Homo sapiens: one gene and its partners. The protein of the gene in region 4 purifies or fractionates together with the protein of the main gene of each other region. This does not show direct contact. Each region holds a gene or a part of one and is shown on either strand. Other genes may lie near its edges. The genes, in order: CDIN1, TONSL, MMS22L and ASF1B.

Region 1 (4,157 bases), on a different chromosome or scaffold from region 4:
TTCATTAGCATAGTGTGCAGAATGCACCATAAAACAAGATTTGGCTTTAATGTTAATGTTCTAATGATGACAGCAATAAAAATAAGTTGTCATTCCGTGTCTACTTTCTGGGGCTGATGTTTATATTGTCTAAACTAAAAAAACCAGCAAGCAGACAATGCATAGAGATGGAACACAGACAAGTATTTTTAACAGAAAAAGAAACAAACCAAGGAGACTTTAAGCTTCCAGTTGGGAACATTACTCTCTTCTCTCCCATACAGCTCCAATTCAAAAGTAGTATAATTATCACATTAGTTTTTATGTGTGAAAAACTTACTTTTGACTAATTTGTAACCTTATTGTAGTGTGTACAGTTTACTGTTGGGTTCTTTCTCACTTTTAAGGGCCAGATTTTAAAGCCTCATTCATAAAGAGGAGGTAGTGCCTTTGCTAGGAACACCAATACCTTCTCACAACACATTATGTCAGGGCAGCAGGTAAAAGAATAAATACAAAACGCAAGTACCTTTTTTATTTTTTAATTTATTTGTTCACGTTCATCATAATAAATTTGTTTAATGTAAAATAAACAAATCCTTGACAAGGGTTTAACAGGATTTTCAACATCTGTGCAGATAAATGTAATTTATTCCTAAAGAAAAAACAGTTTAGAACATGCCAGGAAACCTGCTTTTAACATTTTTGTATAAAGTGTGTGTGTGTGTGTGTGTGTGTATCCAGGCAATACAGTAGTGGTTTCAAATCATTCTATTTCACTCAGAAGCCTGCATGATGAATTTTATACTGAAACAGAAGTTTGCCTGACCCTTCTTTAGCATTTCATCTTCTGCCTCTCTCTTTTGATTTAATGCACCCCACTCAGAGTTAAAATCCACACATGTTGGGACCAGGTTTGTGTCCTTCAAAAGGAAAAGCAGCAGGCATATTTTTACAAACCTTCTTTGGTAGAAAATAAACAAAGTATAAATGACATATTTAGTCTTTTGAAAAAAATCAAGCAATGTATATAAGTTAAAGCTGTCTGCAAAAATTACATTGTTGTTATTAGTATTTCCCATATCATCTATTCAACATTATAAAAGTTGTTATGTCAGCATGGCAGGGTGGCGGGGGCAAATATTTTACTAAATACGTTTTGGGTACAGATTAATATTCAACTTCCCAAAAGATAGGTTTATTATTAACTTACTGATGTTTCGCTTTAGACTGAAATCTGATTTGCAGTACATAAAAGTACACAAAAGTGAATAAATTAAAGTGAACAAATAGAAAAATCTCCTTTATTTTGCTTATTTAAAAATTGCTCCAGGTTTATTTCTGGCACACTCAGTTCATACAAAGCTAAACATTTCTAATGCTGAACTTACTCGAGTGTTTTATAATTACATGGTATAAAATGCATATACTAAGCAGTATACAGAATGTGCCTTTAAAAAACTCGACTCATAAAAATACTAGCTCACGTACATACTGACAACTAGCCATGTTTAAAAATAAACTCTCCTCAATGTTGGGTTGTCGCCTCTCGGCCCCCAATCTAAAGGAGTGTGGTTTCCAGGCACAATGGAACTAATACTTTCAAATAAGATAAATCTAAAATATGTGGTGTTCAAATAACATTATTAAAAGAGGAAATTCTCATCAAGTGTATTTTTGCACTTGGCTTACTGTCACAGAAGTCAGGAAGCCGTAAAGATTGAATATAGCAAACACACAGCATAGGCAGGCTGCCATCAAGGTCTTCTGGAGCTCTGCAGGTGAGTACAAAGGTGGCTTTGGACTTTGTGGCTTCAGCTTTCCTAGGTTTGCGCTAGATTATTCCACGATGGTAATGCAATGCTGGGTCTCTGTGAGTGCACATGAAGAGAAAGGGAGAGGGAGAGACAGTGAACGGAGGCTTAGGGAAAAAAAAATAAGAGGGTGATTCGGTAACTGGGAGGAGAATTGAAAAATCACACCTTTCAGTCTTCACATTTTTTCTTTTGTTCAGCATACAAGGATAAACCATCCGGAAGAAAGAAAGATTATGACTATCTATAAACTAATTGTTTGACAGAGACAGAAATGCTGATAATGAGTGGGTTGTGTCTGTAGTTCTTGGCTGTTCACATCAGCAAGGGATGAAGGAAAACAGAAACTCTTGATATGTTTGTCTAAAGAGGTAGTGGTGTGACTACGGGCAGCAAGAGTTCAGCTGAAGTTCAGGGCAGATGTTGCCAGGATCTTACAGTGCAGGAAAGTAAAATTGCTTCCGGATTCACCTTTTCCTCCCAGCTTCTCTTCCAGGATCTTCAGGGTCAAGCTATGCTGTGGCATAAGGTGACAATGTTCGTGGGGAAACAGGCTTTGAGCAGGATGCCCCTTTCCCGGTTGCAGTCCAGCTCCTGGATAAATCCATACCAATAGATGACTAAGCCTGGCCCAAATCTGTAAAAACACCAGAAAATAACACACACACATGGTATCAACAGAGCTCTTGAAAAAAGTCACCTTGGGGCACTGATAAGATGATTAAATGACAGGACTGCACAAAATTTTTGTTTTGGTTGCTACCATTGTGACTGAAAATAGCCAAACTTATACCAAAGAGTTCACATAACACACATACTACCTTCTCGGATGGATGTGTTCCCTTTCTTTCCAGAAACCTGAAGTATTTCAGATATGGAAACTCTGAATCTTACCTTTCAGTAAGGTGTTATGAGCTTGGGCTGATGTGACTACCTAGCTGATGGAGGACAGATTCACAGTGCAAACAGGAATGAGCTGGGGAATGCCAGCCTTGGGATTTAAGTCTAACATTTAATGGTACTATTTAAAAAATTAAACTTGCCTAATAGCAACTAAGAAAAATAAAAGAATGTTTGAAAACAGAATTTAAAAAAATGCAACAACTTATGGTCCTCTTCTGGCTATACTGTTCTACTTATGCACCCATTGGGCTGGAAGTACCTCCTGTCATCCATATGACACACTGGGTCCCTTTACTCTCTGCATTACAACTTCTTTAAGTGTGGACACAGCATAAAGTTTGGTCATTGGTGCTTACGGAAATGAGGAATAAGGTCATATAGGCTTGTGACAAAGTATAGATCGCTACGGGCTTAATAAAACCTCAGCATTTCTAAGTTGTGCCCTCTGAATTATCTGCAATTTTGTTAGCAGTGACTGATCCCCGCCAGGCAGACTCAGGAAGTGGCCCTATGGACTACTTCACCCATCAGGAAGTTGAGACCTTTAGGCTGGGTTCATAAAGATGTAATCACTATCAATCACTGCACACAGAGAGATGTTTTGCACATCAGTTTCACGTTTTTCCTACCGAGGGCACTTAATTAAAGGGCAGCACTACTTTTGGTGTAGTGTTGCAGGAATTTTACAGTGAAATAATAAATTATGAATGTTGGGTTAGTAAAAGCATGTCTAAAAACAGAACTGCTTTCTGTATTCTAACATTACAGCAGGCTGAACCATGCTAGGCCAAAAAGCTTTTGCCTTCCATGATTTATTATATGCTGTAGTGTACTTGCCAAAACTAACAATACAGGATGGGCTGCGAGATACTGTATGCACAGGGACAAGTTCAATTGGATGTCACGGCCTGGTTTATTTGGGGATCCACATTAGTGGGGTAGCCAAGTTGTATTCAAGATTATTTAAAACTTTGGGATTCCCCTCTGTGCAGGTACAGAACCATGAGATGGCAGCTCATCACTTGATCTTGTTCTAGAAGATGTAGGAACTGGGTATAATTAGAAGCCTTGGAGCACCAGGCCCACTGAGATTTATCAGCTGCAGATGTTCTCTTCTTCCTCAGCATCCCCAAAGAAGAGATTCCTTTGGGGTCAGTAGAATTAGGCTACCTGTGCACAGGTGTGTGGGTCCCCAGGCTCAAATGCATACAAGACGAAGCTCACACCTGCAGAAGAACTTGCTTCCATTTAACCGAGGGTTTCTTAGTAACTTTTAATCACAAACACTTGTCTGTAATTGGAACATAAACCATTGGTACCTTTATTTTACAAAGAGCTCTATGATTAGTGTCAAATGATCTCAGATTTGTCAAAACAAGTCTGGCAAGAACAGAAAGATTTGTGATTCTGTGGACCATGTCTGAGAAGCCACAAACCTTCCCATCAGTGAAGCACCCCTGA
Region 2 (6,204 bases), on a different chromosome or scaffold from region 4:
GCGAAAGCGGACGTTCTGCGGCCACAAGCAAATGTGCAAAACAACCTCGCAGAGTGGACAACGAGCAAGGAAAGCCAGTTTCTAGAACATGCCAATAACGTGACTTTTGCGGCGCTCAGCCGAAGCTGTGCCGGGGCCTAGGCGCGCCCAGAGGGTGCCAGGCCCTGAGTCGCCTCTCCCCACTCTGCCCCTTCCCCGCCCACCGGCCGGGCCCCGGGTACCTGGACGGCTCGCGGTCGGGAAGATGGCGCCGGGGGCGGGGTGCGCTCGGTCAGCGACTCGGCATTCGCCCCTCATGTCTGCGCCTGCGCGCGTCGGGGCGACCCCCCGCCCCTCCGTCCCCATCGGCAGCTCGGCGCTCAGCCCTCACGCCTGCGCCCGCGCCCGCCCGGACTTCGGGACATTCCCTCCAGCCGCGCAGCCCCCGGGACGTAACCGGCGCAGCAGACTCGAAGCCCGGTCTTACCCCGCCCACCCGCCTGCCAGGCAGCCACGGGGAGGGAGGCAGCAGCTTCATTTATTTTATTTTTTTTTTTTTTTGAGACGGAGTCTCGGTCTGTCGCCCAGGCTGGAGTGCAGTGGTGCGATCTCGGCTCACTGCAAGCTCCGCCTCCCGGGTTCACGCCATTCTCCTGCCTCAGCCTCCGGAGTAGCTGGGACTACAGGCTTCCACCACCACGCCCGGCTAATTTTTGGTATTTTTAGTAGAGACGGGGTTTCACCATGTTAGCCAGGATGGTCTCGATCTCCTGACCTCGTGATCCGCCCGCCTGGGCCTCCCAAAGTGTTGGGATTACAGGCGTGAGCCACCGCGCCCGGCCAGCAGCTTCATTTATTAGGGGCTTCGGTGAGGGTGGGGAAAGGCAGCGCCAGGGTCAGAGGCGCCGAAAGAAGAGCTTGGAGCCGTGGTCCAGCGTGCACTCGCCGGGGCCCGGCCGACTGGGCTGCAGCTGGCGCAGGGCGTCCCTGTCCTCAGCGCAGAGGCGTCTGCTGCACAGCTGCAGTTCCCGGAGCTGCGCGGCTATCTTGTCCCACAGGCCCAGGCCCAGGGGACCCTGGACGGCGCAGCCTGCGGAGGGGAAGAGGGCAGACCTCAGCGCTGCGGGGGCCGGCGGCGTCCTGGTGCCCGCGGCAGGCTCCAGGGAACAAACTCGCTTTCGCTGAGGGCCCCAGGGCTGTAGCGAGGGGCAGTGGGCAGAGCTCCGGAGAGGCCCCATGACTCTCCAGGAAGGGGTGGGATCATCTGCACAGCCAGCGGTCAGACAGGAGGAAGGGTGGCTCCCTTCTTTACCTCTGACAGTGCCCGATCTCAAAGTCCATGCCTACACGTCAGTCTCCCCACCCATAAGAAGGACATAATGGATCTGCTTGCAAATCTGTACATCGTGGGCCTGAGTGGATCAAGAGAACACTAAGCTCAGGAATTCAGGGAGCTGGGTGGGAAGGTACAGATGCCAGGAACTGAGGTGTGGGGAAGGGGTCTCACACCAGCACTCGGGGGCCTTCCTGGAAAAGGCGGCCTGGCCCTGGGAGGTGAAGGGGAGGGGGCACAGGAAGAAAGCAGAGCCCCGCTTCGTGCACATTCACTTAAGCCCTCATCCCCTGGAGGGCACAGCCTGCCCCGGCCCCAGTGGGGCAAGCCAGGTCATCAAAGCCCTTCCTGGGGTTGTCTTCCAGACAGCTCAGGTTGGGGACTGCCCTGATGTGGCTCAAGAGAGAACAAGCTAAATCAGACCACAGCCCTGGGCAGGGTTGTGTCAGAGGAGCCCCTGCCAGGAAGTAGGAGGGTCCCTTGGCAGCTTTCAACACCCTGACCTTGGGATCCCTTTTCCTGCCAGGGACAAGAAGAAAGTCCCTGTGGAACAGGGTCTTGCCTACCATAGTCTGCTCTGAAGGTTGGGTTGGAGAGACCAGAGGCAGATACCCACCTCGCCCCCTAACCCATGGTTTTAGGAGCTGGGATCATGCCCCTTTTCTGTCACTGTCACTCTGCCCCCTGCTGCCCCAGCCTCATGGAGCCCAGCCTTGCTGCCTGGCTGGTAGCAGTGACAGCCCCTTAGGAGGAGGCACCTGGGTCTCAGGCAGGTCCCTGAAAAGGCCGAACATGGCAGGCGTGGCCACCATACCAGCACTCACCTGACAGGCCAAGGAAGCTAAGGCCTTGGGGCCGCTTTTGGAGGGTGGACAGGAGCTCTTCCAAGCTGGCACAGCTGATCTCAGGGTTGGCAGACAGATCCAGTGAGATGAGTGAGGGGCACAGAGAGAGACATCTGAGATAACATGGGAAGAAGTGCAAAGGTTGGCTTCCAGAGAGGCTGTGCCCCAACACTAGGAAAGCTGCCCAGACAAATGCCAGCTCAGGGAGCCTCGGGCCAGACCCAGGGGCTCTGCCTCAGCCTGGCCCAGTAGCAGGTGGCCCTCTAGGGTTGGGGGTCCTTCCCAGGGGTCAGGGCCACAGTGGCCAGCTCTGGGTGTGCCTGGCCCAGCTTGGGCTCCTCTCAACACTCCCCAGAGAGCTGACTGAGGCTCCAGGTCATAAGAGCAGTGCCCTCATGTGGGCCGAGGCACAGGAATGACAAGGACACCCCCGGAGGAGTGCTCTCAAGAGCCACAGGCCCATGCTAAGAAAGAAGCCAGAGGGTAGTCTGCCTTCCAGGGCAGCCTGAGAGGCTGGTGGAAACCGAAGGAGCCAGGTCTTGGGATGTGCTGGGGAGGAGGAGCTGGTACCATTTCTGTGGCCCTTCTCCCATAGGGTCCAGAGCCATGAGATCAGACCCCCAGGTCAGCAGGCAGCAGGGAAAGGGCGTTACCTGCACAGGTCTCTAACAGCCTTGTCCCCCAGGTGGTTTGCAGACAGGGTCAGGTGGGCTAGAGCACAGCCTTCCTGGACATGAGCAGAGGCCCAAGGGGGCCAAACGGAGTGGCGCACCTGCCCTGCCTGCTTCCCAGCAGGTGCACCACACCCAGGGGCCCAGAAGGGAGCAGAGTCCCCCATCAAGTTGGAGATCGGAAGGAAACACCTCTCCTGATGTGGGTCACACTCTGCACGTGATAGTGTGAAAATAATAGGGTCCCAGTTGTGCCTGGAAGACCCCCCAGGAGAGAGCATCAGGGGCCCTAGTGTGCCCCTTGGGACCTTCCTGGCGGGGGGCAAGATCACCCTGAGTCCCGGGTCCTATCTGGTGGGCAGGAATTCACAGCCTGAGACAGGCAGCTGTACAAAAGCATTCCCCCAGCTGTTTTTTTCTTTTTTTGTTTTTTTTTTGAGACAGAGTCTCGCTCTGTCGCCCAGGGTGGAGTGCGGTGGCGCCATCTCGGCTCACTGCAAGCTCCGCCTCCCGGGTTCACGCTGTTCTCCTGCCTGTCTCCCAAGTAGCTGGGACTCCAGGAGCCCGTCACCACGCCCGGCTAATTTTTTGTATTTTTTAGTAGAGATGGTGTTTCACCATGTTAGCCAGGATGGTCTTGATCTCCTGACCTCGTGATCCGCCCGCCTCGGCCTCCCAAAGTGCTGGGATTACAGGCGTAAGCTACCACGCCCAGCCTGTTTTTTTCTTTTTCTTTCTTTTTTTTTTTTTTTGAGACGGAATCTCGCTCTGTCACCCAGGCTGGGTGCAATGGTGCAATCTAGGCTCACTGCAACCTCTGCCTCCCGGGTTCAACCAATTCTCTGCCTCAGCATCCCGAGTAGCTGGGATTACAGGTACCCGCCACCACGCCTGGGTAATTTTTGTATTTTTACTAGAGACAAGGTTTCACCATGTTGGCCAGGCTGCTTTTGAACTCCTGACCTTGTGATCCACCCCCTTCGGCCTCCCAAAGTACTGGGATTACAGGCGTGAGCCACCGCGCCTGGCCCCCCAGCTGTTTTTTCTAAACCTCCAAACCTCTAACTCTCTCTGTAGAGCCCCTCAGCGAGTTCAGCCCGAATCTGGGGAGAGGCGAGCTCCTCCCAGCAACCCTGGGACCTTTGGCCTCTGAGGCTCAGTATTTTCTGGGTTCTTCCCCACCTCGTACCTTGGCCAGGTATCGGAATACAGGCTCCATGAGGTCCGAATCACCCTTGCCGGCTGCCACGGAGCTGAGCTCTAAGTGCAGGAGGGTGCCGGCGGGCAGGCTCTGCAGGGTCCTGGCCAGGGCAGGGGCTCCCAGGGCGTTGTAGGACAGGGACAGGGTCTTCAGGTGCTCAGCATCTGCACCGGGGCCAGAATCCGTCAGCCCCACGTGGCCACAGCCCTGTACCCACCCCAAGTTCTGGGCCCAGAACCCTCAGGACCCCTTTGGGGAAACCACTACCGCAGTGCTCGCAGGGTGGGGTGGCAAGTGCAGAGGCAAAGGCTCTCGCCCAGATTCTCCCAGCTGGGAGGGCGGGGCCAGACTTCCAAGCTCGGCTGCCCCCAGTTCTGGACAACTTGCCCTCTCCCACCCCACAACCACACGGTCCTGGGCCACATGCCTCTGCACAGTGGGGGTGCCAGGGGAGTGCACTGACCATTGCTGCCCCCCTTACACTCCCCCTGGATGACACCCAATTCCCAGCCTCTTGGCACTGGGACCCCAGTCTCTGCAGCCTGAGTGGGCTCACAGTGGAACTGCCTCAGGCGAACAGCACTCAGCTGGCGAGCACGGGATGGGGACCACAGGACACTAGCTGCCCGGACTCTGCTCTCGGTGTGTCCTGCGGGGGTCAGCCTGGCTGGGTGGGCACCAGACGCCCCTCGGAGGCAGACCCTGTACCCACACATCCATCTATTGCTCCCAGGTGCCAGGCCCTCCCGGAGAGCCAGGTCTGGCATCCCAGGCCCCTAGACGTTGTTTGTTTCGTTTTTTTGACACGGAGTCTTGCTCTGTCGCCCAGGCTGGAGTGCAACGGCGCGATCTCGGCTCACTGCAAGCTCCGCTTCCCGGGTTCATGCCATTCTCCTGCCTCAGCCTCCTGCGTAGCTGGGACTACAGGCACCGGCCACCACGCCCAGCTAATTGTATTTTTAATAGAGACGGCGTTTCACCGTGTTAGCCAGGATGGTCTCGATATCCTGACCTCGTGATCTGCCCGCCTTGGCCTCCCAAAGTGCTGGGATTACAGGCGTGAGCCACTGCGCCCGGCCTAGACGCTTTTTTCTTAAGGGATGGGGTCTCACTATGTGGGCCAGGCTTTCCTGGAACTCTTGGCTCAAGCGATACTCCCGCCTCAGCCTCTCAAGTAGCTGGGACCACAGGTGTTGCCCCTGTGTGCCCAGCCTGGGCCCCCTCTGAAAGTCCTGGAAACCCTCAATGCCCCAGGGCTAGGGAGTGGACAGGGAGTGCCTGGTCAGCTCACCTTGGAAAGCACTACCCAGTGCTGTCTGGTGGCTCAGAAAGAAGCTGGGGCCGAAGCCACACGCCTGCAGGCGCAGGGTGCTGAGTAAGGGGCAGGCGTGCAGGAGGGAGGCCAGGGACTGGCCACAGCCGTCCCCCAGGGGGTTCATGCTTAAGTCCAGCTCCTCCAAACTCTGTGGAAGACACAGGCTGGCAGTGAGCCCCCAGCAGTCCCACGGACAGGGTCCCCCTTGGGGCTTGGCTTGGCAGTCTCTTCCCCACCTTGCCTGGCATAGCCTATTACAGCCGGGCACTGGCTGGCTCTCCCAACTACCCTAGACCACCCAGGGACCTGCAGAATGGGAACCCCAACTCCCCGCTGTTGAGGGCCTGCTGCTCTCTGTGCCTATACCTGCAAGGTGGCTTGGCCTGGGAGCCCCATGGCAAGCTGGCGCAGGCCTTCGGGACCCAGGTGATTGGAGGAGAGGTCAAGGAGGGCCAGGCTGGGCATGGTGCCCAGGGCAGCCACCAGCTCAGCCACACACTTGTCCCCCAGCCGGTTCCCTGCCAGGCGCAGCTCCCGGAGTGCTGTGTGCAGCTTGAGGGCCCGCAGCAGGGGTGTAAGCTGGGCCTGGTCCAGGGCCAGGGAGCAGGCGCTGAACGAGAGGCCCAAGCCCTGGAGCTCCACGGCCTGCAGCACCTGTTGGTGCTCCCCTGCGGGAGGGATGTGATGTCACCAGGGTAAGGCCGGCCCTTTCTGCCCTCTGAATCCCAGAGGGCAAACCAGGCAGCCCCTTTTCAACAGCCCCAGGGGTCACCCACCAGACTTGCTGTAGAGCCCACTCGCACATGCCTGTGGGTCTAGCACTGTGAGGCCCTGGGGGCCGGGGTGGGTCTGCAGCACCC
Region 3 (5,594 bases), on a different chromosome or scaffold from region 4:
AAATTAAAGGCTATATTGTATTTGTAATGTAAATTATTATACTAATGTGAATTTCTATAGGAAGGTCATGAGACTTGCAAACATTTAAATATCACTTCAATATTTTACTTTAAAAGAGGAAACAAAACACAGTACCAAACAGATGATAACAGATATTCTTGGTGTTAAAGGAAAAGCCAGCAAAGATGTGAATTTCTAAAATAATCTGTACAATGCAATAACACTTCTTAGATCCTTAAAAACAAAATAGCAATTAGGTAATGACTAGGGTACTTTTCATACTTTTTCCTTCATATTTTCTTCACACTTTAACCACATGTACATCAAACTCTTTCAGCTACCACAGCATCTGAAAACCTAACTTTCCATAGTTTTACCACAAAGTATAAAAACATCAGTAATAAGATAGAAATTATTACTTCTGGTAACATGGCTCATTTTTACTTTAGCTTCCAAACAGTGAATCTGTTATAAAAAGGAAGTTTTCAATAATCAAGGGCACAATGTAAGTTACATATATACTTTTATTATTATATATAATTTTATCATATGCACAAATAACTCATAAATATGTATATAAAACTAAAATGTCCACAATTTTTCTAAAAGCACAATTCACAAATGCAATGAATTGGATAGCCATTGGCACATCAAAAATTTTAATAAGTATAAACTGGTCAATTCCAACCATTTGGTAATTTACAATGCAGGTTATCACAGTATCAAAATACACCTTATTAAATTTGTAAAGAATATGCTATGTTGCTAGCTTCCCAAACCAACTGTTTCTAACCAAATAAAGCATATTATTTATATTGGCATACTATACTCTTGCCTGACAGGCAATATTTTTAACTCTAAGAGGGGTAGGTAAAAGATCAGTTTTTTGGAAAATAAAAGATTTATATAAAAAGTCTGGATAAAAAAGCAGTGGTTTAGTACAGATGATTCAACTTTTGGTGAGGTTTCTGTATCTATTTACCTTTTAGACATGGGGAGACATGAGTGCTATGATAACATACGGTTTGGGGAAGGCAGATTTCTAAAGGCTTTTCCTAACTGTAGAAGCTTGTCAAATTTTTATATAACATACAATTTTTAACTGTCAAAGATTCTGTGAAAGTACACAGAAGCAGGTCCGTGTAATTATTTAAGAACAAGGTAGTTTAAAAAATGTGTTGTAAAGCATGGAAGAAAATAATAATAGGTAAGGAAAACCCACAAACATCTGACTCACAAATATTTTCTTATACAGATGCTGAGGTAGAAAAAGTCAAATATGCTTAAGAAGAAAACATACGAAGGATAGGTAAAGATATACAAGTTTTAAACTATGAAATTCCTCTAATGCAAATGAACTCAATACTGAATGACTTTTCCACAGTCCTCCATGCTTCCTTCCTTGCCATGGAAACGTTCTAATTAAATTGAAATTTAAATCATAACCAAATCCAAATGCCTAATAAAGTCCTTTCATCACTCTGTTGTCCTTCAGTTGTCTTTTATACTCTATCTGGTATTTTATAGATATTATTTGACTGGAATACTCATGTATCCAAATGTATATTTTAATTTTCTTCCTATTTAAGTGTCTTCAATTTCTATAGGAAAGAGGTCCTATACAGTTTCCATGCTGTAAACTGAATGAGGCTGAGTGTAGGATGAACATGGCAATCAGAGAAAGCTGCTAAATGAGCCTCTTGTTTGGAAAGAGATAAGCTTGAAGATAAAGGTACAGTCAGATAGGTGGCAGAAAGTCTCCAGACTGAAGGGTTTGAACATCACCTTATAAACAATGGTAAGTTACTGGAAGTCCTCGAGCAGAAAAGTAACAAGAGGAAAACAGTATTTTAGGAATACACATTTCAGAACATAAGCTGTAGGAGAAGAAACCAGAGGTAAGGAAATAAGTAGTGCCCAACAGAAAAAACAAACAACCAGTGGATGCAAGGCACTGCAAAAAGATAAAAAGAAGCCTAAGATCCTGTAATGGTAATCAACTGAAAGTGGGAGAAACATGAAGAACCTAAAATGCCTCTGACATTTCAAGGCTAAATAACTTAGGACAATAGTGTATTCCCTGGGTAGAAAATGAAAGCAGGAGGTAGTCTGAGATTTCAGGAGACTCCAACTACAGAGGTTTAGAGATGAATTAGCACTAGGTGGCTCATCACGCCTGTAATCCCAGCACTTTGGGAGGCCGAGGCGGGCGGATCATGAGGTCAGGAGATCGAGCCCAACATGGTGAAACCCCGTCTCTACTAAAAATACAAAAAAAATTAGCCGGGCGTGGTGGCGGGCACCTGTAGTCCCAGCTACTTGGGAGGCTGAGGCAGGAGAATGGCGTGAACCCGGGAGGCAGAGCTTGCAGTGAGCCGAGATCGTGCCACTGCACTCCAGCCTGGGCGACAGAGCAAGACTCTGCCTCAAAACAACAACAACAACAACAACAAAAAAAAAAAAAAAAAAAAAAAGAGAGAGAAAAGCTGGAGTTATCAGTTCACCACTAACAGAATGTTGAGACAAAGCAGATGAAGGGTCGTATCTTACGACTGGGGACAGGAAAGAAGACCATGAAGGTGCTCTCAAGATACAGTGGTCATTTTTGGTCTGGGGACTGGTTCCAGGATCCCCTGTGCATACCATAATCTGCACTTACTCAAGTCCTGCAGTTAACCCTGAGGAACCTGCCTCTACAAAAAGTTGGTCCTCCATATACTCAGATTTTGCATCCCACAAATACTGTATTTTAGATCCACATATAAGTGGACCTGCACAGTTCAAACTTGTGTTGCTCAAGGGTCAACTGTATATGTAGGAAGGAGCAGTACCATTGTGGAAATGATGGGAAGATAAAAGAAAATACAATTGTCACAGAGAGGACAAAGAACATGAGAAAGGAGAACAAACTCAGATTTGACCAAAAGACAATGGCTTGTATTACACTGGTAGAAGCAGCAGCCTCAGAAATTACAGGGTATTTAGGGAAAGTGGCTATTAAAGAAGCAGGTATAAGGGACTCCAAGTCTGGGAATGAAAGAGGGCAAGATTGTAGTAATAAGTGAAGGATCAGTGAAGATTTTAAAAAAAAGGAACTGAGCCATAAATTTTCTTCTTTTTTCAATTTAAAAAAAAGCTTTAAAAAAAGTTACTTATACATAAATACAAAACATATAATACACACACATATTGTTACACACTTTGTTGTTACCATTCTTAAGTACAAATTTTAGTTATTCTTAGTATCTATAGATATATGTCCTAAAGCATGATTCAGTAGCAGCTTTTCCTATCCTTTAAACGTTTTCATACTCTAAGGAGCAAGATTCTCAAAGGTATCTTTATCAATCTCCTTTGGAAAAAAAAAACCCACACACACACACACACACACACACACACACACACACACACAAAAACACATATACACATAAATAACCTCTTTAAAGGCATCACCTTAAATAGATAAAACTCCTTAGTGACTGCTGGAACTTTCCAAGCCATACATTATTTGTTTAGTAAGTCACTATCATGATGAAAAGAAATTCAGTGTTATGAAGTCTATTAAACAGCCTTAAGCTTTCATTTATTCCCTTTGATGAAGCTGATTTGAGAGAAGGACCATTTATATGTTATGAAAATAACAGACACTCCTTTGGATTTCACAGATTATAATTAAGAGAACGCTATTAACTACAGAATACTGATTGCAAAGTATTTCATTTTTAAAGATACTCCTTGAGCCAGAGAAGGGTTGAAATGTTTTCTTGAAGGAAGAGTAGAACCATGATAAAGACTATAATCCCAAGAAGGAAACAAAGTACTTCAAAGTTAGAAAACATGATGTAAGAAAACATTGGAAAGTGGGATCATTCATCTGGGACATATCATTAGAGAAAGATAAAATTGAGAGGTGTTCTTTGCCTTAATTGTGCACGAGTAATAAACTAATCGTGTCTGTACATTTCCCAACAGAATTTGGGCCACCAAATATTTTCACGTACATTATCCCATTGATTCTCACAACAACACTGTCAAATAGTAAAGGGATTCTTCTTTTCTTCTCCATGAAGAAACTAGACTGAGAAAGGTTACGTAACTAGCTCAAGATCATAAAGCAAAGCTGAGTTTGAGACCCAGGTGGGTTCCCAAAACTAGGACTGGAGCTCTTTCAACCAAATAATGCTCAATAGGAAAAGGAGTCAAGGACAAGCTCCAACTGGTAAAACAATCTGGATGAGTTAAGAGTTCAAAAGTTGAGAAACAATGTTGTTAAAGGAAACTAAACAGGTTTCTTGGATAAAATGCTAAGTTATAAGAAGCTCTGGCTAAAGAGCAAGAAGATGGATCAGCTGACTTCTCAGACCACTACTATTGTTACTTTTCTAGAATATTTTTATTTACTCTCCTCTTAAAGTCTCCTTTATTTCCTCCTCCTGATATGATTTTTTTTTTAATGACAACTCCAAAAGAAAGGATGAATAAAAAAAAAATTTGGCAACTCTTGGAACCTAAATATAAACCCTGTTGGCATGTTTACACTTCTTTTTGGATATCAGCTGTATAATCCTTTAGCCAGATTCAGTCTCATTCCTAACACAGTTAAGTGTGCTTTGTAAGGGTTTTCTTTGTTAACTTGCCTCACACATATAAAAAAGAAAAACAAATACACAGTCACATTTCCCAACACCTTTCCCCCACCAAAAACACAGTATAGGGTAGCCAGGTACTTTGAAAAAGTATCATTTTAAAACATAACTATTATTGTAAAAATAAAAAATAAACATGACAAATCAGTCACAAGGCAGGGAGGCAGGAAGTCATACTACAACAAAAAGTCTATGGATGAAGTATCTGCTTAATACTCACACACAGAAAACACTCTCAGAAAATGTTTCTTTAATTTAGTTTAACTAAAATTTCATCAAGGTAGAATGCAGTTTTGTAAAAAGTTCCAAGGATCCTATTACACAGTTGCTAATTAACCTTCAGTTCCTTATTTATACATTTTTTACTTACAGATATAAAAGGAAAAAAAATCCTAGAAATTATTTTAAACAGAACATTATACAATTAATTAAAAGTAGGAATTAGAGTGGAACAATGTGGCTTTAGATACTGATAATTAATAGACAGGATGAATCACAAAATATATTAAGTATTATCATTTTCCAGTCTCTGCATCTCATCTTGTCCCATCTGTCCAAGGTGAGACAAAAGTTTGCTATAGGCTTCCCTGTTTAAGAAAAAAGAAAAGAAAGCAAATATATTAACATTTTCATTATTTTTCATTTCAGTATTTACAAATTAAGTCTGCCCATCATCCATCCATCCATCTATTCAGCCATCCATCCAGCAGGCTTAGCACAACACTTCTTAAAAAGTAATGCTTTATATCTATTGTGAGTAAACCTAGATGTTAAGATGTATTAAAGTATGATTTTTATATATAAAATGTGTGCTAAAAATGACATGTAAAAGTTCATTAACCTTCCGAAATATTATAATGCTCACGGGTAATAAAATGCATTCATGGAATATTATTTAAGGACAATGATGGTATGATTACAATGGGAAGACTTGTATCACAAGCGTAA
Region 4 (7,970 bases):
ATCGCTTGAATCTGGGAGGTGGAGGTTGCAGTGAGCCAAGATCGCGCCATTGCACTCCAGCCTGGGGGACAAGAGCAAGACTTCATCTCCAAAAAAACAAAAAAAGGACCAGCAGGTTGAATTTAGCCCTTCCGGCTCTAATTCTATAAATAAGTTAGTAAAGTCACAGGGCAGGGGCTTCCTAGGAGTAGAAGTACCAGATAATGACCGCACAACCATTTTTTTTTTTTTTTTTTTTTTTTGAGACGGAGTCTCGCTCTGTCGCCCAGGCTGGAGTGCAGTGGCGCGATCTCGGCTCACTGCAAGCTCCGCCTCCCGGGTTCACGCCATTCTCCTGCCTCAGCCTCCCGCGTAGCTGGGACTACAGGCGCCCGCCACCACGCCCGGCTAATTTTTTGTGTTTTTTAGTAGAGACGGGGTTTCACCGTGTTAGCCAGGATGGTCTCGATCTCCTGACCTCGTGATCCGCCCGCCTCGGCCTCCCAAAGTGCTGGGATTACAGGCGTGAGCCACCGCGCTCGGCCACAACCATTTTTAAATGCAAGGAACACAAACAGGCTGATTGAAACCTGATCTCCTGCCGTCGGGGAGCTGGGAATCCCTCAACCTATTACTTCCTTCCATCTCCTCCTGGCTTTTAAATTAAATCTTATTCCACAGCGTCATTCTACACTTTATTTATTTATTTACCCGCTGCCTTGTTCCAGAAAGGATTTAACTCGGCATATTCTATAGTTAGCCACAAGTAGACTCCTTAATTTAAAAAGGAGCGAGAGAGACCGGGGAGAGACAGACCCACTGGCCTACCCAAAGCACATCCACATCTCACTCTATCAGCTCCAAGCTAGTCCAGGCGACCAGCTTTGAGGGCAAAACACCTACCTGCCCCCGAGAGGCACTAGTTAGCATATCCTGGCTTCACAGGCCCCCAGATCACCACCTCCTCGGCTGCTGCCTTTTCTCTTTCAACCACCAAGTAGAAAAATGGCCTAATGGAGTACTTCTTCCTGAAAGCAGGACTTGCCTGTTAGTGGTGCCAAGGCTCCCTAGGTGACCTTAGATTTTGGATTTGTACAGGCCTTGACTTGAAAGGTCTTTTGCGTTTTGTGGCTCCTGTCTTCTCATCTGTGAGATGAGAGCCATGCCCACCTTTAAGTCACACAGATTAATAAGTACATCTACGGAAGCACCTTGGAAAAGATGTACAGGAGGCTGTGACCTCCAAGCTCCAGCCGACTGTTTGAAGCTGGAGCCCGTCACAGCTCAGCCCAATCCACCCACCCCCCAGACTAGGTCAGACCATCAAAAGCAACGGGAGCTTGGCACTGATTATCCAGCTATATTAAAAAAAAAAAAGAAGAAGACGGGGCACGGTGGCTCACGCCTGTAATCCCAGCACTTTGGGAGGCCAAGGCGGGTGGATCACTTGAGGTCAGGAGTTCGAGACCAACCTGGCTAACATGGTGAAACGCTGCCTCCACTAAAAATACTAAAATTAGCTGGGCGTGGTGACAGGCGCCTGTAGTCCCAGCTACTCGGGAGGCTGAGGCAGAAGAATCGCTTGAACTCGGGAGGTGGAGGTTGCAGTGAGCCGAGATCGTGCCATTGCACTCCAGCCTGGGCAACAGAGTGAGACTGTCTCAAAAAAAAAAAAAAAAAAAAGAAGAGGAAGAAGAAGAAAGAAAAAGTGACAGAAAAATTGCTGCAGTAACTCAGCTGGAAACGGGTGGGCAAACCTGGAGAACTAGCTAATGCCTGCCTGGCTATGCCACCCCTCGGATCTCAGTGTGTTTATCCAAGCCCACAGAGAAAGGTGGGGAAGGGGAGCTGGGGAGACAAAGTTCCCCTCAAAGACGGTAGCATCCTTTCCCAGGGAGAGCTCAAGCATAGGGGGGTTGGGCCCCAACGAAGGAGAGAAACCAGGTTCCAGGGTATGTGCATTGGGGCAGAAAAGCGGCAGCAACTGGTGGGCGTGGGGTTATTGAAATATTGGCAGGTTGGGGAGGGGACTGGTGGGACACAAATGGGAAGATGGGGTTGAGAGAGGTCCTGAAAAGGGGTTGAGGGGTTTTCACAGGAAAAAAAGGTTACTGGAGGGGAGGGTCTTCACGGCAAGGAGAGAGGAGCTTGGGTGAGAGGTCTCCATAGGGAAAATAGGAGATGGCTGGGATTTCCCCCGGGGAAAATGGGAAGGGGCTGGATATTGGGGGTCTCCAGAGGGAAAATGGGAGGTGTGAGTATCTCACTACAGGAAAGAGGGAATAAGTGGGCAAAAATGGGTGGGTGGTTGAAGCGGGGGTCTTGCCACAGGGAAACCACGGTGGCTGAAGATCTCCGTGGGTTAAGAAATGGAGGCCGAGAAGGTCTCCCCATGAAAACGGGTACCTAGGAAGAGCTCCAGAGAAAAAAGATGGATGAGGTTCCCCACGCGGGAAATGGGGCTTGGAGGGGGTTAATCTCTATGGGGAGGTCGGGGCGGGCAGTGGGGGAAGAGGCCACTGGGAGGTCCGAGTTAGCTGGCGGGGGGTCTCCACCCGGGAGGTCAAGGCGGGCAGTGGGGGAGGAGGTCACGGGGAGGTCCGTGTTGGCTGGTGGCGGGGGGTCTCCACCGGGAGATCCGGTTGACTGGCGGGCTGGGGGAGATCGGGGTTGGCGGAAGGGGGACGAGGGGTTTCATGGGGGAGATCAAGTTGGCCATGGGAGCGGTTCTCTGAGGGGAGGCCGGGGTCGGCCCGGGGGTGGGGGTCCCCGCACAGGCCCAGCCTCACCGTCCGCCAGGGCTTCACTGCACTCGAAGCTGATCTCGAACCGGAAGGGGCTGTGGAAAGGGCTCGGGTTCTCCAGGACCGCCACGTTCAGCACCGACACCTTGGCCATCGCCTCGCCTCGCCGCGCCGCAGCAGGGGCAGGGGCTGTGGCTGTGGCGGAGGCCGCGCCTGGGTCCGGTGGGGTCAGTGGGGTAGGGCTGACCAGGTCCACTCCCGCCTCTTCTCTCCGAGAACTGAAGTGCGCACCTAGTCCGCGCGCCGCCTTCAAATAGCCGGCCTCCGCCCTCTGGCCAATCACCGCCAACGCTCCCTGGCGGCGCGCGCACCCCCTCAGCCAGTCCTGGAGCGCCGATCGGCGCGCGCCCAGACTCCTCGGACCAATCAGCGGAGCTCCCTCTCCGCAGCGTGTGAGGAGGGCGAAACTATCTCCAAGCTTCTTAGCGTGTCCGCTGGAAACCAATCCCCAGCGTCTCCGACTTGGATGTCAACGGCGGGAATGGACGGAGTCACAGCGCCGGCCTCCTTCTGGCCAATCCTGAGGGTTCCCGCACCGGCGTGGCCCGCCCCTCGCCTCGCTTTTCCGGGAGATGCATCCCGCAGCGCGCAGCGCCGCCACCCGCCGAGCGGTGGCGCGCGGCGCTCGCTAAAGAAGGCGGGAAGGGCGGTGCTCGCACCCGAAGTGATTGGCAGGAGGGAGTGGGGCGGAGATAAAGAGGGTTTTCTGAGAGTTTATTGGCTGGATTGGTAATGGTGGCGGGAGCAGAAGGAGGCTCAGCTGGGGATTCGCTGGAGAGAAGCGGAAGTCGAGCGCCACCGCGGTGTTGGCGAGTGTGAAGAGAGAGGAGGAGCGTTTGCGGCCTCAGCGTCTGTCAACAGGTGAGCGTTTCCTGGAGCTTTTCTGAGTGGCTCCTGACCCTTGAGGTCCAGCGGCGCGGGAGTCCGTTGTGAACGTTGCGAACGTTCGGAGTGGCGGTCACGAGGCGCGCTCAGACCTCGGGAATCCGGCCGGGTTCGGATCCCGCTTTCGCCCCCGAGGGGTTCGGATCCCGCTCTCGCCCCCGAGGGGTTCGGATCCCGCTCTCGCCCCCGAGGGGTTCGGATCCCGCTCTCGCCCCCGAGGGGTTTGGATCCCTCTCTCGCCCCCTTGAGGGCTCTTGGGAGGTTTCAAGCGGACGGTACTGAAAATGGGAGTTCCAGTTCGGGGGCAGACCAGTGTTCAGAGTCCGGGCTCTGCTACTCAGCGCCCGAGGCAGCGCCTCCCCATTCAACGGGGGCCGTGGCAATTCCCTGACATGATTCATGACCACATAATACATCCGGAAACTTCTCTCCACCGCCTCCCGTCTGGGCCGTCGCCCCCGGCCTGGGAGACTCCAGGTCTCAGAGTCTCTGCCCCCACGGGCGATCAGTGCTGCCCAGTGGAAAAATAATGCCAGCCGCGCACCAAAATTAGGTGTAAAATTAACATTTTTTGGAAGCCACTTTTTTTTTTTTGAGATGGAATCTCGCGCTGTCACTCAGGCTGGAGTGCAATGGCGCGATCTCGGCTCACTGCAACCTCTACCTCCCGGGTTCAAGCGATTCTCCTGCCTCAGCCTCCTGAGTAGCTGGGATTACAGGTGCCCACCACCACAACCAGCTAATTTTTTTTCTGTATTTTCAGTAGAGACGGGGTTTCACCATGTTGGCCAGGCTGGTCTCGAACTCCTGACCTCAAGTGATCCGCCCGCCTCGGCCTTCCAGAGTGCTGGGATTACAGGCGTGAGCCACTGTGCCCGGCCATATCTTTTTTTATTATTATTTGTAATTTTAGAGGCTGGTCATGGAGGATTTCTTGAGGCCAGGAGTTCAAGATCAGCCTGGGCAACATAACAAGACCTCATATCTACAAAAAATAAAAGAATAAGCCAGGTGTGGTAGTGCATACCTGTAGTGTCTGCTACTCCTGAAGCTGAGGCAGGAGGATCTCTTGAGCCCAGAATGCTCCAGCCACTGCACTCCAGCCTGAGTGTCAGAGTGAGACCCTGTCTCTAAAAATTAAAATTAAATTTTAAAAAAGAAAGTTCAGTTTAGCTGTCTTGATAGCCGCAGTTGAGTGCTCCTGAGCCCGTGTGACAAGTGGCTCCTGTATTACTGGACAGCGAAGGTCAGAAACACATTTGACCAGGTCACTTCTCCGGATGAGAGCATTGTCTTTGAAACTCTATGCTTTGTCTCCTGTTAACCACCCAGCTCCAACTTCAAACCAGGCTAAGTAACCCTCTTTTTGTTAAAATTCTGACAAGCCACTCCCAGTGCAAAGCCTCTGCCCAGAACCTCTTCTCCTAGGCTCTTGGCATGGCTTATGCCTTCTTGTCATTCAAGTCTCTGTTCAAATGTCCTCTCCCCAGAGAGGCCTTTCTAAGGGTGCTCTGGACAGTGTTCAAACTCACAGGCCGTACGCCTGAACAGCACTGAGCCAAGGCACTAGTATTTCTTACCCAGTCACCTCTGTGGGCTCACTAGGACTCACTCACTGTGCTAGTATGTTTTCCTTTTCCTTTTCTTTTTAAACAATCCAGTTCCTGTGGGATTTTTTTTTTTTAATAGAGGTCTGTTGCCCAGGCTGGAGTGCAAGTGGCATAATCGTGGCTCACTATAACCTGGAACTCTTGGGCTCAAGTGATCCTCCCACCTCAGCCTCCCGAGTGGCTGGGATCACCAGTGCGTGCCACCATGCCTAATTTGTTTTATTTTATTTTATTTTTTTTTTGAGAGGGAGTCTTGCTCTGTCACTCAGGCTGGAATGCAGTGGCGCAATCTCAGCTCACTGCAACCTCCTGCTTCCAGCTTCAAGCGATTCTCCCACCTCAGCCTCCCGAGTAGCTGGGACTACAGGCACACGCTACCTTACCCAGCTAATTTTTGTATTTTTAGTAAAGATGGGGTTTCACTATGTTGGCCAGGCTGGTCTCAAACTCCTGACCTCAGGTGATCCACTCACCTCGGCCGCCCAAAGTGCTGAGATTACAGGCATGAGCCACCGTGCCCTGCCTCTTATACTTTTTAAATTTTTTGTAGAGACAGGGTCTCGCTGTTGCCCAGGCTGGTCTTGAAACTCCTGGCCTCAAGCAGTCCACCTATCTTGTCCTTAAGTGCTGGGATTACAGCGCCTAGCCCATTTTTGGTATCTACATCTCACATTAAGTTAAGAAAAATTCTTTTTAGCTGTTAAAAAATCGAAAGCTTTGTTTTTATTCTTTTGAAATTATTTGGCTTCAAGGAAACTCACATTTATGATTCGCTTGATTTCTTGGCAATCATTGCATACTTAGGGATATTTGTGATTTGAGAAAATCTAATTTCCAAATGTAATTCGATTGCTTATGAATACTAAATTTAATGATTAATGCAGTTGTCATGATGTCACATTTCTAGATGCTTAATTAAACATTTATTCATTCCAACTTTGTAGTTTTCTCTTTGCATTGTGGAACTTTTTTCCCTTTATCCCTGTCCCTGACCTTTTCGTAGCCCCTGAGAAGCTCATGATCCACCAGCATTATTTCCGTGGCGCTAATGAAGAATGTGGCCCTGTCTATGATGCATTCTCCTTACAGCTGGCTGAATGATCTTCACTTGTAAACCAGATCATGTCATTACTCTGCTTAAAACCTTCAGAGGCTTATCCTACTTAGAATGAAACCTAAGATCTTTCCTATGGCTTAGGCGGCCCTGCGTGGTGGCCTCAGCTGACCTCTCAGGCCTCATCTACCATTCTTCCTCTTGTCACCGCTCTCAAGCCCAGCTGGCTTTATTTCCCTTCTTTCAACACACCCAGCTTATTTCTGCCGCAGGGCTTTGCACTTGCCGTTCCCTCTGCCTGGAATGTGCTTCCTCCAGATAATTGCATGGCTGTCTCTTTCTCTTCGCTTGTGGTTCAGCTCAAATGTCCTCTGAAAGAAGACTTCCCAGAGTACCCTATTTAAAGTAGCACTTTCTTGGCCGGGCGCGGTGGCTCATGCCTGTAATCCCAGCACTTTGGGAGGCCAAGGCAGGCGGATCACGAGGTCAGGAGATCGAGACCATCCTGGCTAACATGGTGAAACCGCATCTCTACTAAAAATACAAAAAATTAGCCGGGCGTGGTGGCGGGCGCCTGTAGTCCCAGCTACTTGGGAGGCTGAGGCAGGTGAATCGCTTGAATCTGAGAGGTGAGGGTTGCAGTGAGCTGAGATCGTGCCTCTGCAATCCAGCCTGGGTGACAGAGCAAGACTCCGTGTCAAAAAAAATAAATAAATAAATAAAGTAGCTTTTTCTTAATCACATCACTCAGTTTTATGATCTTAGTAACGCATATCAGAATTTGTACTTATTTTCGGGTGGGCATGGTGGCTCACACCTATAATCCCAGCACTTTAGGAGGCCAAGGCGGGCCGGTCACTTGAGGTCAGGAGTTCGAGACCAGCCTGGCCAACATGGCAAGACCCCGTTTCTACTAAAAAAAAAAAATACAAAATAAATAAATAAATAAATAAATAAATTAGCTGGGCGTGGTGGCACGTGCCTGTAGTCCCAGCTGCTCAGGAGGCAGAAGAATTGCTTGAACCGGGGAGGCAGAGGCTGCAATGAGCCGAGATCACGCCACTGCACTCAAGCCTGGGCAACTGAGAGAGATTCCATCTTAAAAAGAAAAAAAGAATTTCTACTTATTTTGGTTTTAAATTGTGCTTATTATCTCATCATCCCTCAGTAGATTGAAAGCTGGTTGTGAGAAGAGATCTCGCCTAGCTCACACCTCTCAATGTTGTACTTCCAGAGCTTAGCAGAGGACGTGGCTCATAGAAAGTCCTCAATCAATTTTTCAAAAAGAATAAATCTGGCTGGGCGCAGTGAGTCACACACTCTGGGAGGCCGAGGTGGGCGGATTACCAGGTCAGGAGATCGAGACCATCATGGCAAACATGATTAAAACCTGTCTCTACTAAAATACAAAAAATTAGCCAGCCGTGGTGGTGCGTACCTGTAGTCCTAGCTACTTGGGAGGCTGAGGCAGGGGAATTGCTTGAACCTGGGAGGTGGAGGTTGCAGTGAGCCTAGATTGCACCACTGCACTCCAGTCTGGTGACAGAGGAAGACTCCGTCTCAAAAAAAAAAAGAATAAATCTATGTAAAGGGTGGGTTTAGCATAGTACCTGGAATGTGAAAAGTACTCAATAAACA

What was found.
Region 1: the proteins of ASF1B (region 4) and CDIN1 purify together in Homo sapiens (affinity purification with mass spectrometry; 5 studies listed by BioGRID and IntAct, with this or other methods). This does not show direct contact.
Region 2: the proteins of ASF1B (region 4) and TONSL purify together in Homo sapiens (affinity purification with mass spectrometry; 6 studies listed by BioGRID and IntAct, with this or other methods). This does not show direct contact.
Region 3: the proteins of ASF1B (region 4) and MMS22L purify together in Homo sapiens (co-immunoprecipitation; 5 studies listed by BioGRID and IntAct, with this or other methods). This does not show direct contact.

What each region holds. Positions count from the first base shown.
Region 1 is NC_000015.10:36,806,597-36,810,753, reverse strand, and holds the end of CDIN1 (CDAN1-interacting nuclease 1), read right to left. Parts: intron 2,431-4,157; coding exon 2,301-2,430; 3' UTR 510-2,300; downstream 1-509. UniProt on the Homo sapiens protein: Plays a role in erythroid cell differentiation.
Region 2 is NC_000008.11:144,428,268-144,434,471, forward strand, and holds the end of TONSL (tonsoku-like protein), read right to left. Parts: intron 6,013-6,204; coding exon 5,711-6,012; intron 5,493-5,710; coding exon 5,321-5,492; intron 4,194-5,320; coding exon 4,018-4,193; intron 2,885-4,017; coding exon 2,811-2,884; intron 2,271-2,810; coding exon 2,137-2,270; intron 1,070-2,136; coding exon 876-1,069; 3' UTR 508-875; downstream 1-507. UniProt on the Homo sapiens protein: Component of the MMS22L-TONSL complex, a complex that promotes homologous recombination-mediated repair of double-strand breaks (DSBs) at stalled or collapsed replication forks.
Region 3 is NC_000006.12:97,141,655-97,147,248, forward strand, and holds the end of MMS22L (protein MMS22-like), read right to left. Parts: intron 5,234-5,594; coding exon 5,152-5,233; 3' UTR 507-5,151; downstream 1-506. UniProt on the Homo sapiens protein: Component of the MMS22L-TONSL complex, a complex that promotes homologous recombination-mediated repair of double-strand breaks (DSBs) at stalled or collapsed replication forks.
Region 4 is NC_000019.10:14,133,580-14,141,549, forward strand, and holds the start of ASF1B (histone chaperone ASF1B), read right to left. Parts: upstream 3,011-7,970; 5' UTR 2,878-3,010; coding exon 2,769-2,877; intron 1-2,768. UniProt on the Homo sapiens protein: Histone chaperone that facilitates histone deposition and histone exchange and removal during nucleosome assembly and disassembly. Cooperates with chromatin assembly factor 1 (CAF-1) to promote replication-dependent chromatin assembly.